2 linked regions of the Homo sapiens genome follow. The protein of the gene in region 1 interacts with the protein of each later gene in a pairwise test. Each region holds a gene or a part of one and is shown in the gene's direction. Other genes may lie near its edges. The genes, in order: ZNF558 and LZIC.

What was found.
Region 2: the proteins of ZNF558 (region 1) and LZIC interact in binary tests that used the Homo sapiens proteins (3 or more experiments, as listed by UniProt).

The regions. Positions count from the first base shown.
Region 1 is NC_000019.10:8,828,427-8,837,309, reverse strand, and holds the start of ZNF558 (zinc finger protein 558), read left to right. Parts: upstream 1-5,005; 5' UTR 5,006-5,101; exon of another isoform or gene 5,102-5,231; intron 5,232-5,908; 5' UTR 5,909-5,992; intron 5,993-6,418; exon of another isoform or gene 6,419-6,540; intron 6,541-8,883. UniProt on the Homo sapiens protein: May be involved in transcriptional regulation.
Region 2 is NC_000001.11:9,925,992-9,934,135, reverse strand, and holds the end of LZIC (protein LZIC), read left to right. Parts: intron 1-1,237; coding exon 1,238-1,333; intron 1,334-2,163; coding exon 2,164-2,245; intron 2,246-3,678; coding exon 3,679-3,737; coding exon of another isoform or gene 3,738-3,780; 3' UTR 3,781-3,807; coding exon of another isoform or gene 3,808-3,824; 3' UTR 3,825-7,843; downstream 7,844-8,144.

The DNA.
Region 1 (8,883 bases):
ATCTTCTGTCATATTAAATAGGAGGTAGATGATCAATCCTTTTTAACAAGGTTCAAACATTTCTCTGATTTAGATCACTGTAAAATTGCTGGGTTGATAAATATGCACATTCGTACAGCTTTGGGTATATGTTACCAAGTACCTGCTGAGAAACTGGTACTTATCAATGCTGCTAGCAGAGGGCGAGGTCATTCATTTCTTCATGTCTTGACAAACTGGCCATTTAAAATGTTTTGCATTACTTGAGAGGCACAAACATAATGCCATTATTTTAATTTATGCCTCTTTGCTAATTAGAGTATTGGGCAGTTGTATGTATTTGTAAAGGAGTGTGTGGTTCATAGCCTTTGTCTTTGATGATGTTTTTACTGGCTTGTTCATCTTTTGCTTATTTATCCAAAATATTCTTTATGTAATAATGATATGAGCCCACATGTCATAGATTTTTACAATTATTTATCCCCAGTTTGTTTTGCCATTTAATAATGTGATGGTGTGGAAAATTAAGATACACTTAAGCTGGATACGATGGGGTCATGCCTAAAATCCCAGCACTTTGGGCAGCCAAGGCAAAGGGATTGCTTGCGCTCAGGAGTTCGAGACTAGCCTCTGTGGTGTGGCGAGTCCCTGTCTCTATAAAAAATACAAAAACTAGCTGGGCGTGGTGGTGCACGCCTGCAGTCCCAGCTACTCGGGAAGCTGAGGAGGGAGAATGACTTGAGCCCAGGAGGTCGAGGCTGCAATGAGCCATGTTTGCACCACTGCACTCCAGCCTGGGTGACAAAGCAAGATCCTGTCTCCAAAAAAAAAGAAAAAAGAAGAAAGAAGGAGGAGGAGAGGGGGGGAGGAGGAGGAAAAGGAAGAGAAGAAGGAGGAGGAGGAAAGAAGAAAGAAGAAGGAGGAGGACAAGGAGGAGGAGGAAGGGGAGGAGTAAGGAAGAAGGAAGAAAGGAGGAGGAGGAAGAGGAAGAAGAGAAGAACTCACATTTTTGTAGTATTTTACTTTTTCCACTTTTCTTCTATTATTTTGAGGAAGAAGCACTCATATTTATGTAGTATTTTATTTTTCCACTTTTATTCTCTTATTATGCCTAACTGAAGAATTTATGTGTATAATTCTACATTTTTTAAATAAAAACTTTATTGAGCTACCATAATATTCAACCTTTTAAAGTGTACAGTTTTTACACTTTTGTGTAAAATGGTTTTTAGTACATTCACACAGTTGCGCAATCGTCACCACTATCTAATCTTATTTTCATCTAAAATGAAATCCATACCATTACCCACTTCCCCTCATTTCCCTTTTCCCCAACATTTGCCACTAATCTATTGTCTCTTTGGATTTTCTTATTCTGGAAATTTTATTTAAATTGAATTATACAAAATGTGGGTTTTTTATGAGTGGCTTCTTTTACTTACCGTAATGTTTTCAAGGTTCATCCATGGAATATGTATTCTGTTTAATGGATGAATAATAATCCGTTGTGTGGATATACCACATTTTATTTATCCATTCATCAGTTGACTGATATTTGGGACATACAAAATTTTGGGCTATTATGTATAATGCTGCTATGAACATTCATGTACAAGCTGTCATGTGAACACATGTTTTCATTTCTCTTGGGCATATACTGGAAATAAAATTGCTGGGTCACGTGGCAACTCTATGACTTTTTGAGGAACTGCCAAACTATTTTGCAAAGTGGGTGCACCATTTTACAATCCTGACAGCAATGTATAAGAATTCCAATTTCTCCTTGTCTTTGCCAATCTTTGTTATTGGCTATCTTTTTAATTTTAATTATCCCAATGGGTGTGAAGTAGTATTTTATTGAAGTTTTGATATTAACTTCCCTAATGATTAATGGGGCCGAGCATCTTTTCATGTATATATTTGCCATTTGTGTATCTTCTTTGTAGAAATGACGATTCGAACTCTTTGTTCATTTTTCAGGCTGGGTGCAGTGGCTCACACCTGTAATCCCAGCACTTAGGGAGGCCAAGGTGGGCAGATCACTTGAGGTCAGGAGTTCAAGACCAGCCTGGCCAACATGGCAAAACCCTCTCTCTGCTAAAAATACAAAAATTAGCCAGGCGTGGTGGTGAACGCCTGTGGTCCCAGCTACTTGGGAGGCTGAGGCAGGAGAATCGCTTGAATCCAGGAGGCAGAGGATGCAGTGAGCCAAAATGGTGCCACAGCACTCCAGCCTAGGTGACAGAAGGAGACTCCACCTCAAAAAGAAAAAAAAAAAAAAACTCTTTGTTCACTTTTAATTGGGTATCTTTTTATTGCTGAGTCGCAAGCCTTTATATATTTTGAATACAAGTCATGTATCAGATAAATCATTTGTAAATGTCTTCACCCAGTCCATGTTTGTCTTTTTTCTTGATGGTGTCCTTTGAAGCATCAATGTTTTTTAATGTTAAGTCCAATTTATATATTTTTTCTTTCGCCACCTGTTTTTGATGTCATATCTAAGAAACAATTGCCTAACCCAAGATCACAAAGTTTGACACCTATGTTTTCTTCCAAGAAGTTTATAGTTTTAGCTCTTACCTTTAGGTCTATGATCTATTTTGAGCTCACTTTTGTACATGGTGTGAAGTAGAGGTCCAATTTCATTCTCTGTTTTTTGTTTGTTTCTTGGTTGGTTGGTTTTTTTTTTGTTTTTTTTTGGTTTTGGTTTGTTTTTTTTTTTTGATGGAGTCTCGCTCTGTTCTCAGGCTGGAGTGCAGTGGGGTGATCTCGGCTCACTGCAATCTCCACCTCCTGGGTTCAAACGATTCTTCTGCCTCAGTCTCCCGAGTAGCTGGGACTATAGGCGCCCGCCACCACGCCCAGCTAATTTTGGTATTTTTAGTAGAGACGGGGTTTCACCATGTTAGCCAGGATGGTCTCGATATCTTGACCTCGTGATCTGCCTGCCTCAGCCTCCCAAAGTGCTGGGGTTACAGGCGTGAGCCACCACGCCCAGCCCAATTTCATTCTTTTGTATATTGGCATCTAGTTGTCCCAGCACAATTTGTTGAAGAGAACAGTCTTTCCACAGTGAACTTTCCTAGTATATTGAATTTTGAACTTGTTCATTTTTGCTTAAACTTCCTTCAGCCACCTGAAAATGGATATTTTTGGGAAGCAGAGATCTAACTATTTTTTTCTGAAAGGACGGGTGCATGAAACAATATCATTCATTGAAAGTATTTCTTCCTGGCTGATTTTAAATGTTACCACTCTCTTACATAAAATTTTTTCCCTTTGCACTTACCAGTATCTTTTTTTGTTTATGGTTTTTGGTTTTTGTTTTGTTTTGTTTTTTGAGATGGAGTCTTGCTCGTCACCCGGGCTGGAGTGCACCGGCTGCAATCTCGGCTCACTTCAACCTCCACCTCCCGAGTTCAAGCTATTCTCCTGCCTCAGCCTCCCAAGTACCTGGGATTACAAGGCATCCGCCACCACGCCCGGCTAATTTTGTATTTTTAGTAGAGACGGGGTTTCACCATGTTGGCAGGCTGGTCTCGAACTCCTGACCTCAGGTGATCTGCCTGCCTCGGCCTCCCAAAGTGTTGGGATTACAAGCGTAAGCCACCAGGTCCAACCAGCACTTAGTGGTATCTAACGCACCAACCCACCATGTATTCTATTTATCACATTCACTGTCCATTTCTCCTGCCCAACTCACAACTAAAATGCACGTTCTCTGAGGGCAAGGACGTTTACCTATTTTGTTCAGTCTATATCCATGGTGTATAAAACAGAGACTTGTTGGGGGGGAGGTAATAGCATTTATTCCATGAATATGACTACGGCATACACACATACACACACATACATGTCCACACTATATCTGGAAAGATAGAGGAGAAAATTATTTTTGCCTCTGAGCAAAAGAACTGAAAGACCGTGGTGGGAGAATATTTGACTGACTTTGTACCATTCTTAAGTTTTCCTATATGTGTATCTATGACCCAGTCCTCTCCTGCTCCCCTAAACTCTTAGTGTTAAATCACTATGTTCTGCCTTGGGAAAGCAAGTTATAGACAAATGTGCATACATAATCTGATCCTATTGGGTTGTATGAACATGGGGCAGTAACTGTATCAACAATCTAGGGATCCAAGGAAGGCCCTACCCCTGAATCTGATCTCCCACAATCCTGGCTCCTGGGCCTATCCCAACCCACCCACATCATACACCCTTTTATTCATACCCAGATCCCTGCCCCTGGAACTGGTCTCCACCCACTGCCCCCTCCCCAGGCCTGGTGCAGCCCACAGTCCCGCCCCCAGAACTGGTCTCCGCCCACAGTCAGCCCCGCCCCCAGGCTTGCTGCCACCCCATAGCTCCGCCCCTAGAACTGCTCTCTGCCAATCACCACTGCCCTCCAAGACCGGTACACCCACAGCCTAGTCCCCGCCCTCCGCCCGGCCCGGAGCTTATCTCCGCCCACAGCCAGCCCCAACCTCCAGGGCTGTCACAACCACAGCCTGGTTCCCGCTCAGCCCCGCCCCGGAAATGGAGGTCTCCACCCCTGTAACTGGTCTCTGCTCAGTCATCCCCGCTCTAGAAGCCTTATACCATCCGCCCCGAGAACTGGGCCCCACCCACAGCCCCGACCCTGGAACTGGTCTCTGCCCAATCAGCCTCGCCCTCCAGGCCTGGTACGGCCTCAGCCGGTTCCCCGCCTTCAGCCCCGCCCCGGAACTGATCTCCGCCCACAACCAGCCCCGCCCCCAGGCCTCGTGCGGCTCACAGCCTGGCCCCGCCCCCAGGGCCAACCTTACCCCCGCTACTGCCCCAGGCCAGGGCCCAACTTTGTGCCCACTAAGCAAACTAGAACACCTCTGCCCAAGGCTGGGGTTCGCGGCCGCCGCTCCCGCCCGCCGCGCCTGTCGCCTAAGCGCCGAACCCCCAACACGCTCGACTCTGCGAGGCTGCCCGCGCGAGCCGGAAGGGGACGTGCAGCGCACCTCTCCCCAGACCGGAAGCGGAAGCGCGGGGCGGTACCGTGGGAGGGGCCGCGCGTGGGGCAGCGGGGAGCGAGTCCCTCCGTCCCCGCGAGTCGGCGCTTTTGGCCCCGCGGGAGGGGCCGGGCTCGGTGAGCGACTGGCGGGGGCTCGGGTCCGAGTCCAGGGGGCGACGTGGGCCGCGGACACCGCCAGCCACGGGCCCTGCGTCCCTCCAGGGAGCCGTGTTTCGGTTCATGAGGCCTCGGGCTGTGAGCTTAGGTCAGCACGAAGCTGCTGCTTGCTCCTGGGTCGGGGCCCCGCGCCGCTGTTGCCTCCTCAGGGAACCCCAGTCGCCCTCACCCGGGGCGATTCCGCACCCCAGGGGACTTTTGGCTGTAGCTGGAGACGACTGTGGTTTTCACAAATTGTGGGGAGGGGAGGCTGCTACTGTCACCTAGAGGGTGGAGGCCGGGGAAGAGGGACGCTGCTTGCTCTTAAAGATCCTACGTTGTACAGGACAGTCCCCCACAACAAAGAATTATCAGTAGTGCCAGGTTGGGAAACCCTGCTCTAGGGCCTTAAAAAAAAAATCTCTGCAGTTCTGAATAAACTACATAAATTGTTAAAAATTCAGTTTAGTCACTTAATAGGGCCTCTAAGTGACAAGATATTTTTAAAGCCTGTGGAGTCACCATAGAATCTCTCTCCAGCGTAGTAAGTTGAGCAAGTCAAATGCACACAGCGTTAAGCTGCTTTCTCCCCTCTTACGGAGCAGATGGCCAGATGGGAATCAGGTAAAGCCAGTCATGGCCCACAGGCTGGGCCCTTATTACACATTTAATCATTGAGTACCCAAAAAAAGTGAATGGGATGGTGTTTCCGGCAGCCGTATCCAACAACTGTACAACCTATACAAAGCCTCGAAAGAAATCTTTGTGTCTTTTTTTTTTTTTCAGATGAGAAAAGCATCATTCAAGCTCAGATTCGTGTTGAAGCCTGCCACAAGGTCCACCTGTTGTTGTGGGTTTTTGGGTGACCAGGTGAGTACAGTGTGGAACCTACAACAAGGTTTCAGCAGGCTCTGCTGTGTAGAAGAACTCCTCGTGGGCTTTTCCTGTGCTGGGGTTGTAACCACATTGAAGTCACTAAGAGTGAAGGTATCTTAAGGAAAGTTCAAGGTAAAAAGACAGAGGTGTTTATGGTTACATGTGTGTAAATAAGTAAATACAGTTACATGCAAATAAGTATCCACAAAACAAACATACAAATAACGTAAAGATGTGTAACTGTAGCTAAAGACAGATTTTCTGGTATGCCGTAATGCTAAAAGTTTCTGAATTTTATATAAGTATAGAAAATATTTACATGTATATGTAGTGTTACAAGTCTTCCCACTAACAACTAGCAGGACTACTTAGCAACATTTTTCAGGCCTGTTTGATTTGACTTTTTTTTTTTTTCTTGAGACCAAGTCTCACTCTGTTGGCCAGGTTGGAGTGCAGTGGCGCGATCTTGGCTCATGTCAACCTCCACCTCCCAGACTCAAGCAAATCTCCTGCCTCAGTTTCCTGAGTAGCTGGGACTACAGGCAAGTGCCACCACGCCCAGCTAATTTTGTTTGTATTTTTAGTAGAGACAGGTTTTTGCCATGTTGGCCAGGCTGGTCTTTAACTCCTGACCTCAAGTGGTCCGCCCACCTCAGCCTCCCAAAGTGCTGGGATTACAGGCAAGAGCCACCGCACCCAGCTGTTGATTTGATTTCTAAAGGCATATTGGCCCTCCACCAAACTTCAAAATATAAGGGCATTTGTAAAAAGGATGATTTATTAGTAACAAATTTAAAATTAAATTGACCGGCGACCAGATGTGTTTTGAGTAATGGGATTTTTTTTTTCCTAATGAGATTTGAAAACATTTGGAAGAATATTAAGCAACAACTTATAGATTGAAGGGTAGGGAACTGGTTTCCAAAAAGATTGTCCTCTGCACCTTGCCTCCTGTATTAGTCCTTTTTCACACTGCTATAAAGAACTACCTGAGAGTTTTCACACTGCTATAAATAACTCCCTGAGACTGAGTGACTTACAAAGGAAAGAAGTTTAATTGACTCAGTTCTGCATGGCGGGGGAGGCCTCAGGAAACTTACGATCATGGCAGAAAGCAAAGGGAAAGCAAGGCACGTCTTACATGGCAGCAGGAGAGAGAGAGAAGACATAAACGCCAAACTTCTAAACCATCAGATCTTGTGGGAACTTACTATCAGGAGAACAGCAAGGGGGAAGTCCGCCCCCATGATTCAGTCACCTCCTACCAGGACCCTCCTCTGACACATAGGGATTATTACAACTCGAGATGAGATTTGGGTGGGGGGACACAGAGCCAACGATATCACCTCCTAATAGGAATTAACTTTGTTTCTTAAAACTTCTCTGAAATAACAGTATGGTGATTCATATTGCAGAGAATCATGTTAAGTAATCTAGTATTAAATTGTGGGGTTTCTACTAATTGTGTGTGTGTTCACCTTTTCCATTCTAGCTTTCCTACAGCATTCTTGAAGGAATGTTTACTTATCATGCAATAGATATTATTTGAGTGCACAGTTAATGGTGACCAACCATCCTCATTTTTTCAGGACCAAGGGGTTTGCTAGGGCACAGGGCATCCAGTGTTCAAACCGGGACAATCCTTGGCAAACCAGGTCGCCTCCATGAGTCAGGTCCTAGGTCAGATGCACAGGGACCCTGGAGGACCTGAAATGGCCCCTGTCCTACATAAAGTTTACCTTCTAACAGGGAAGATAAATTTTAAACCATGAATGACAGGAGTGATGTGGGAGCTTGGCACTAGTGAACTTGATCAGAGGGAACAGGGAAGCTTTCTTGGGAAGGATATTTAGCTTGAGAGCTTAAGTTGTTACAGAACCAAACTGGGGTCTGCTCACCTGGTGGTGCAGTGAAACCAGATGTCTATATTGAGGGTTGCTACGATAGATAGAAAGGCTTTTATTGCACAGCACTAAGCAAGGAGGACCAGACATTAAATGTTCAAATCCTGGCCTCCCCAGTGGCTTTTAGGCAAGGAATTTTTTTTTTTTTGAGATGGAGTCTCACTCTGTTACCCAGGCTGGAGTACTGTGTTGCAATCTCAGCTCACTGCAACCCCCGGCCTCCCGGGTTCAAGCAGTTCTGCCGCAGCCTCCTGAGTAGCTGGGATTACAGGCGCCTACCACCATGCCCGGTTAATTTTTGTATTTTCAGTAGAGACGGGGTTTCACCATGTTGGCCCGGCTGGTCTTAATCTCCTGACTTCGTGATCCACCCGCCTCAGCCTCCCAAAGTGCTGAGATGATACAGGCATGAGCCACCACACCCGGCCTTTTTTTTTTTTTTAATGAGACAGAATCTCACTTGGTCACCCAGGCTGGAGTGCAATGGCACGATCTCAGCTCACTGCAACGTCTGCCTCCCAGGTTCAAGTGATTTTCCTGCCTCAGCCTCCCCAGTCCCTAGGATTACAGGCACATACCACCACACCTGGCAAATTTTTTGTATTTTGAGTAGAGACAGAGTTTCACCATGTTAGCCAGGTTGGCCTCAAACTCCTGACCTCAGGTGATCCGCCTGCCTAGGCCTCCCAAAGTGCTGGGATTACAGACATGAGCCACCGTGCCCGGCTAGGCAAGGATTTCTGAAGGCAATGGTAAGTTACAGAAAAGCAGAAGCTACAGGCAAAATCATAAAGCAATACATGGAGGTTACACACTGGTTTAGACTTAAAAGGGCAAGGATGTCTTGAAGCAGGAGCTTGTCATAGGTAGATTCAAAGATTTTTCTGATTTGTAATTGGTTAAAGAAAAGAAGCTTTGTTTAAAAATTTAGAGTCAGTAGGAAAATGTTAACTGGCTGGGAGAAGTGACTTTCTCCAAGCC
Region 2 (8,144 bases), on another chromosome or scaffold:
TGCCTCAGCCTCCTGAGTAGCTGGGACTACAGCAGGCACATGCCACCACGCCTGGCTAATTTTTGTATTTTTAGTAGAAATGGGGTTTACCATGTTGTCAAGGCTGGTCTTGAACTCCTAACCTCAAGTGATCTGCCCGCCTCAGCCTCCCAAAGTGTTGGGATTATAGATGGGAGCCACTGCGCCTAGCCTTTTGTTTGTTTTTTGTTTTTTTGTTGTTGTTGTTGTTTTTGAGGCAGGGTCTTACTTTGTCACCCAGGCTCAGTGTAGTAATGCAATCTCGGCTCACTGTAGCCTCTGTCTCCTGGGCTCAAGCGTCTCCCATCTCAGCCCCTCAAGTATCTGGGCCCACAGGCACAACACCACCACACCCCACTAATTTTTGTATTTTTCATAGAGACAGGGTTTCACCATGTTGGCCAGGATAGTCTTGAACTCCTGAGCTCAAGCAATCCACCCACCTCAGCCTTCCAAAGTGGTGGGATTACAGGCATGAGCCACTGTACCTGGCCTGGACAACTTATTTTATTCATCCCCTTTGTGCCTAGGTTTCTCTGTCTGTAAAAACATGACAAAGATAGTCCTTACCTCTTATGGTTCTTATGAGGATTAAATGAAGTAATATGTGTAAAAGTACTTTGAATATTCCCAATGTGTGGTACATGCTATTAGTGTTTCTGGTGGAAGAGGTGATATTTTACTAGATGATTTACTAGAACTGCATTTAACATTTCTATCATATTTGCCTTGGATTATATCTGTAGTTCTTTATAATATTAATCAGCTAGAGGATTTTTTTTTAAGAAGTACGTCTGAAAAGCTATATGTATGTGTATATATATATATATATATTTTTTTTTTTTTTTTTTTTTTTTTTTTTTGTGGTGGAGTCTTGCTCTGTCACCCAGGCTGGAGTGCAGTGGCGCTATCTCGGCTCACTGCAAGCTCCACCTCCCGGGTTCACACCATTCTCCGGCCTCAGCCTCCTGAGTAGCTGGGACTACAGGCGCCTGCCACCATGCCTGGCTACTTTTTTTGTATTTTTAGTAGAGACGGGGTTTCACCGTGTTAGCCAGGATGGTCTTGGTCTCCTGACCTCGTGATCCGCCCGCCTCGTGATCCGCCCAAAGTGTTGAGATTATAGGCGTGAGCCACTGCGCCTGGCCTGAAAAGCTATATTTTGTATATGGAATGTTTTTCACTTAAGTAACATATGCCTTGCATTCATACGTTTTAGATGGATAGAGATCTGATGGTAGGAAAGCTGGAAAGAGACCTGTACACTCAACAGAAAGTGGAGATACTAACAGCTCTTAGGAAACTTGGAGAGAAGGTACCAGTATTTAATATATTAGTTACAAAGAAAAAGTATGAATTATTTGGTACAGAACATCTTGATCTGTGGTCTAGTTTGTGGTACTAAGACATTCTTTTTTTTTTTTTTTTTTTTCTGAGACGGAGTTCCGCTCTTGTTGCCCAGGCTGGAGTGCAATGGTGCGATCTCAGCTCACTGCAACCTCCCCCTCCTGGGTTCAAGCAATTCTCCTGCCTCAGCCTCCTGAGTAGCTGGGATTACAGGTGCCCACCACTACGCCTGGCTAATTTTTGTATTTTTAGTAGAGATGGGGTTTCACCATGTTGGCCAGGCTGGTCTTGAACTCCTGACCTCAGGTGATCCGCCCGCCACAGCCTCCCAAAGTGTTGGGATTACATCGGCCTCCCAAAGAGCTGGGATTGCAGGTGTGAGCCACCGCACCCGGCCCTCCCCTCTACCTTTTTTTTTTTTTTTTGAGACGGAGTTTTGCCCTTGCTGTCCAGGCTGGAGTGCAGTGGGTCGATCTCAGCCCACTGCAACCTCTGCCTCCCAGGTTCAAGCAATTCTACTGCCTCATCCTCCTGAGTAGCTGGGATTACAGGCGTGCACCACCACGCCCAGCTGATTTTTTGTATTTTTAATAGAAATGGGGTTTCATCATGTTGGCCAGGCTGGTCTCAAACTGCTGACCTCATGTGATCCACCCCCCCCCCCCCCCCACGCCTCCCAAAGTGCAGGGATTACAGGCGTGAGCCACGGTGCCCAGCCTCCTAAGACATTCTTACCTGGTTTCTAGAACCACCTGTAACATTTACCCACTCAACTGGACTTTGTTTCATTTTGTTTAGCTGACTGCAGATGATGAGGCCTTCTTGTCAGCAAATGCAGGTGCTATACTCAGCCAGTTTGAGAAAGTCTCTACAGACCTTGGTGAGTGCCCTCATATTTCTGAAAGCTGGTCGTATACTACTGTCATATATTACATACAAACTGATGGAGAGTGTGGTTGAAATAACATAATAACCTTTCCTTGAGTTTAAGAGTGAAACCAGAATTGTTTTCTTTATAAATCCATTGTATTGGTTTTATTCCCCAATATTAAAAATAAATTAATGCAGCCTAATGTTTTTAAAATACTTGTCAGGTAGACGTAACTATAACAGAAAACTAAAATTATATGCTTGAGGCCAGGAGTTCTAGACCAGCCTGGGCAACATGGTGAGACCCTTTGTCTTCAAAATTAAAAAGCGGGAGGCCAAGGCCGGGTGCGGTGGCTCACACCTGTAATCCCAGCACTTTGTGAGGCCGAGGCGGGCAGATCACGAGGTCAGGAGATCGAGACCATCCTGGCTAATACAGTGAAACCCTGTCTCTACGAAAAACACAAAAAATTAGCTGGGTGTGGTGGTGGGCACCTGTAGTCCCAGCTACTTGGGAGGCTGAGGCAGGAGAATGGTGTGAACCCAGGAGGCGGAGCTTGCAGTGAGCCGAGATTGTGCCACTGCACACCAGCCTGGGCGACAGAGCGAGACTCATCTCAAATAAATAAATAAATGAATAAATAAACAAAATTAAAAAGAAAAAAAATTAGCTAGGTGTGGTGGCATGCACTTACAGTTCTAGCTACTTGAGAAGCTGAGGCAGGAGGATCACTTGAACCCAGATATTTGAGGCTGCAGTGAGCCAAGATCATGCCATTGTACTCCAGCCTGGGTGACAGAGCAAGACCTGTCTCCCCGCAAAAAATATTTCTTCTTTCTTTATTTTTTTTTTTCACAGAAATGTTTTAAAATAAATTTTATGGCCAGGTGCGGTGGCTCAAGCCTGTAATCCCAGCACTTTGGGAGGCTGAAGTGGGTGGATCACCTGAGGTCAGGAGTTCGAGACCAGCCCGGCCAACAGGGTGAAACCCTCTCTACCAAAAACACAAAAATTGGCTGGGCATGGTGGCACGTGCCTGTAATCCCAGCTACTAGGGAGGCTGAGGCAAGGATAATTGCTTGAACCCAGGAGGTGGAAGTTGCAGTGAGCCGAGATCGCACCACTGCACTCCAGCCTGGGCGACAAGAGCGAAACTCCATCTCAAAAAAATAAATAAATAAATAAATTAAATTTTACATATTATATTTCATAGCTAGAATAAGGATTTATAACTAATAAGTCCCCCTTTGTAGCTGGATTGTTTGTGCAGAGGGAAGGAAATTGGGATGGCAATGGGAACGTGTAGGGGTTAATACACTGATAATGGAGGCTAATTATATTTTCTGTTTTAATATCTATATGATAGATTTTTTCCCACTTTACCAGGAATTGCAACTGCACTTGAAATAATCTTTTTGTTTATTATGTGTCTTTTTTCTTAGGCTCTGGAGACAAAATTCTTGCTCTGGCAAGTTTTGAGGTTGAAAAAACAAAAAAATGACATGGTGCAGAAGCTTGTAACATTGATCACATTCTTAATGTAAATGGTGTCTTTCTTCTGGGGTTTTCAGTTATTGCAAAGAAATGAAGAGATTCTGGAAATGCATCAATAACCTAAGAAAAAGCGACATAAAAATATACTTATGGCTTGTGTTTATGCTCTTCATCATTGTGCGTTGTGTGCGGTTACCTGCTTGAGTGATCCTGAACTTGTTGCGACAGAGGGACTCACTGGACTCTGTTCGTTATGATTTGTCTGTTTAAGAGAGAAAACAAAGTGGACTTGATTTTTATTAAGGCTGTTTGTTTTTAAGTGTTGATAGTGAACGAAAAGATGTGAAGTAATGATATTTTTCTGCTTACAACTTATCCCCACTCATTGGAGTGAACAGTGACGCAAGCTCAATAGACTTCATAAGTGTTCATAGAATTTTACAATTCTGAGTGATCTTAGAAATCATTTCTGTTTTTACAAACAAGGAAACTGAGGTCCAGAAAGAGCAAGCGACTTTGCTTAAAGTCGCATCAGAGAGCTGAGGGTAAGACTCAGGTGTCCTGACTCCCAGTTTAGTATCTTTTGAATTTTATTTCTGTACCATTTAAAAAAAATAATTAACACTATTTGTGCAAGTCAGTGTTTTTGAAAATTCAGTGTCCCAATAAAAAGTGGACTGCACACTAAGGGACCATCCCCCAGCCTGTAAGCTGTCTGTATTAATGGGGCCCGTTGTATCTCGGAATTTTGAGGTTGGAACAATGGGAGCCCTGTTGAGCGTTTCCTAAAGTGACTTAGCCGCCTGCGTTGTTTGACCAGGGAAGCAACAGGAAATGGCAGCTAGAGGCCCTCCCTGTGCGTGACCTCTTGTCACACTCAGAGGGGGGTAACTGTCAGCTGTTATCTACTCTTCAGGTTTTGGAGAAACACAAAATAAGTTATGAGGAAAAGCAAATTTCTCTCCTGAGTATTTACATGTCTCTGTATGCTCAAATATGCAGATGTGTCCCTATGCGTGTATATTAGCTTATTTTTTAGGCTCTAGCCATTTTATATTCTTTCATGTGCTTCTCAATATTCTTTTTCTTTGCACTTTATACAAATTAAAAGCATTTTTAAAGCTTCTTCTGTACTGTAAACTACTAGGTGCTTTGCCAACCAGACAGATTAGAGGACCTCCGCTACACTGATGCCTTATTTGGAACTTAAAAGAGGTGAAATTCATATATCATAAAATTCACCATTTTAAAGTGTACCATTCGTTGGCAGAACATTTACAGTGGTGTGCAACCATCACTACTCTCTAGTTGCAGAACATTCTTATCACCCCCAAAGGAGGCCCTATACCTATTAAGCAGTTAGTCCCCATTCCCTTCTCCTCCGACTGCTAACAATAGCCACTAATCTGCACCCTGTCTCTGTGGATTTACCTATTCTGGATATTTCATATAAATGGAATCATATGATATGTGACCTTTTTATGTATCTGGCTTCTTTCACTTAGCATAATATTTTCTTTTCTTTTTTTTTTTTTTTTTGAGACAGAGTTTTACTCTTATTGCCCAGGCTGGAGTGCAATGGCGCAATCTCAACCTCCGCCTCCCAGGTTCAAGAGATTCTCCTGCCTCAGCTTCCCAAGTAGCTGGGATTACTAGTGTGTACCACCACGCCCAGCTAATTTTTGTACCTTTAGTATAGAGACAGGGTTTCACCATGTTGGCCCAGCTGGTCCTGAGCTGACCTCAGGTGATCCAACTGCCTCGGCCTCCCAAAGTGCTGGGATTATAGGTGTGAGCTACCACACCGGGACATCATCATATTTTCAAGTTTAACCAACATTATAGCATGTATCAGTACTTTATTCCTTTTTATGGCTAAATAATATTCCATTGTATGGATATCATATTTTGTTTATCCGGTATCTGTTGATGATTTGGGTTGTTTCCTTCTTTTGGCTATTGTGAATAATGCTTCAGTGAACATTTGTGTACAAATATTTGTTTGAATACCTGTTTTCAATTTTTTTGGGTGTACACCTAGGAATGGAATTGCTGCGTTTGTTGTTGTGTTGTTGTTGTTGTCGTTGTTTTTTGAGATGGAGTTTCACTCTGTTGCCCAGGCTGGAGTGCAATGGCGTGATCTCGGCTCACCACAACTTCTGCCTCCCAGGTTCAAGCGATTCTCCTGCCTCAGCCTCCCGAGTAGCTGGGATTAAGGCATGCGCCACCACACCTGGCTAATTTTGTGTTTTTAGTAGAGATGGGGTTTCTCCATGTTGGTCAGGCTGGTCTCGAACTCCTGACCTTAGGTGATCCACCCGCCTCAACCTCCCAGAGTGCTGGGATGATTACAGGCATGAGCCACCATACCCGGCCTGAGCCACCACACCCAGCCTACGTTTGTTTTTTAAGCCATAGAAGATTCTTCCCACCAGTCGGGCACAGTGGCTCACACCTGTAATCCCAGCACTTCAGGAGGCCAAGGCGGGCGGATCACAAGATCAGGAGCTCAAGACCAGCCTGGCCAACACAGTGAAACTCCATCTCTACAAAAATTAGCCAGGCATAGTGGCAGGTGCCTGTAGTCTCAGCTACTTGGGAGACTGAGGCAGGAGAATCACTTGAACCTGGGAGGCAGAGGTTTCGGTGAGCCGAGATGGCGCCACTGCACTCCAGCCTGGGCGACAGACTGAGACACGGTCTCAAAAAAAAAAAAAAAAAAAAAAAGAGGAAGAAGATTCTTCCCTTACCCTGCAATAGTAGACCAGAAAAATTAGGAATATCTTGAATTTGAAAGGGACCTAATGCCTGGCACAGTGGCTCACGCATGTAATCTCAGAACTCTGGGAGGCAGAGGTGGGCGGATCGCCTGAACTCAGGATTTGAGACCAGCCTGGCCAACATGGTGAAACCCTGTCTCTAAAAAAAAAAAAAAAATTAGCCAGGCGTGATGGCATGCACTTGTGGTCCCAGCTACTCAGGAAGCTGAGGTCAGAGGATCACCTGAACCTGGGAAGCAGAGGTTGCAGTGAACTGAGATCACGCCACTGTACTGGCTGACAAAGTGAGACCCCTGTCTAAAAAAAAGATAAAGAGAGTTACCTGAATCTGGAATCCTTAATCTTGGTTTTCCTTAAACTTTCTATAAGTCCAGCATCTGAAATATTTTGTCAATTATCACATTAATGTGTTCATTTTGTAAGTAAGAGTACTCAATTTAAAATGATCTTACTTTAAAAGTGGCCTAGTTTGCAGTGCCCAGCAGGACACTGACAGTCACAGCTGTGTGACTTTTTGTGGGTTACTTAATTTTTTTGAGCCTCCTTTTCTCTTCTATTCAATGAGGATAATAGGGCCTACCTCATAGGATTATTATGCATTCCCCTCTGTTAATGCACGTAAAGTTTTTACTTGGAAAACTAACTCACCATTTAACAACCATTCTAAGCACCATAGGATATATTTTGTTTCACAAATTTGGTATTCATTCAGAATAAGTATTTGAAAAGTGAGTAAATTCTATGCAATTATAGTTATTAAATGACTTATAAACTGTGTTTCTCTTCCACTTCTTGCTACATTTAATCTTCTAGGTGTTCAGATATCTTTGGAGATTATAGGCAGCAATAAAGCTAAGGCAGCTAACCTTTCAACATTCTTGTGTCAGGCTAATATTTTGGTGAAAGGAATTCTTGTGTTTCTCAAAGAACTAGAGCTGAAGCAGAAATAAGTTCCAATGAGCAAGTGTCCAATCGGACCATTGAATGAAATCTAGTGTTTTAAACAATTCTGATGTTTCAATGTTTTGTTCTGTTTTCTTTTGATCTTGTGAGCAGTAAGACATATTTTATGTGGGTGGTAAAGGAAGAAATCAAGTAACAGAATGAGGAATTGTTCCCAGGAAGAGTTAGAGTTGGGACAAATGGGTTGTTAACTTTGATTTTTAGATCTTCTCTGAAGACATTAAACATGGAATGGTCATCTTTAGAAAAATAAAAGACTATGCAACTCCACCACTGAAATGGTATCTTATTACAGTGAATGATGGATAATCTGAAATTACTATAGAAAAAAATAAACCCAGACCATTTTGCCTAGAGCCTTTCAACCACCTTTCTGTCCACGTTTTTCTTTTTTATTCTATTTATTGCTAAGACCAGTGAATGTTCTTCTTTGCCTTCCAAAATGTTTTCCAGCATTAGTATGTAAATTAAAACTGTCGGCAGGGCGCCGTGGCTCACACCTGTAATCCCAGCACTTTGGGAGGCGGAGGCGGGCAGATCATAAGATCGAGACCATCCTGGCTAACATGGTGAAACCTTGTCTCTACTGAAAATACAAAAAATTAGCTGGGCGTGGTGGCGGGCGCCTGTAGTCCCAGCTACTCAGGAGGCTGAGGCAGGAGAATGGCGTG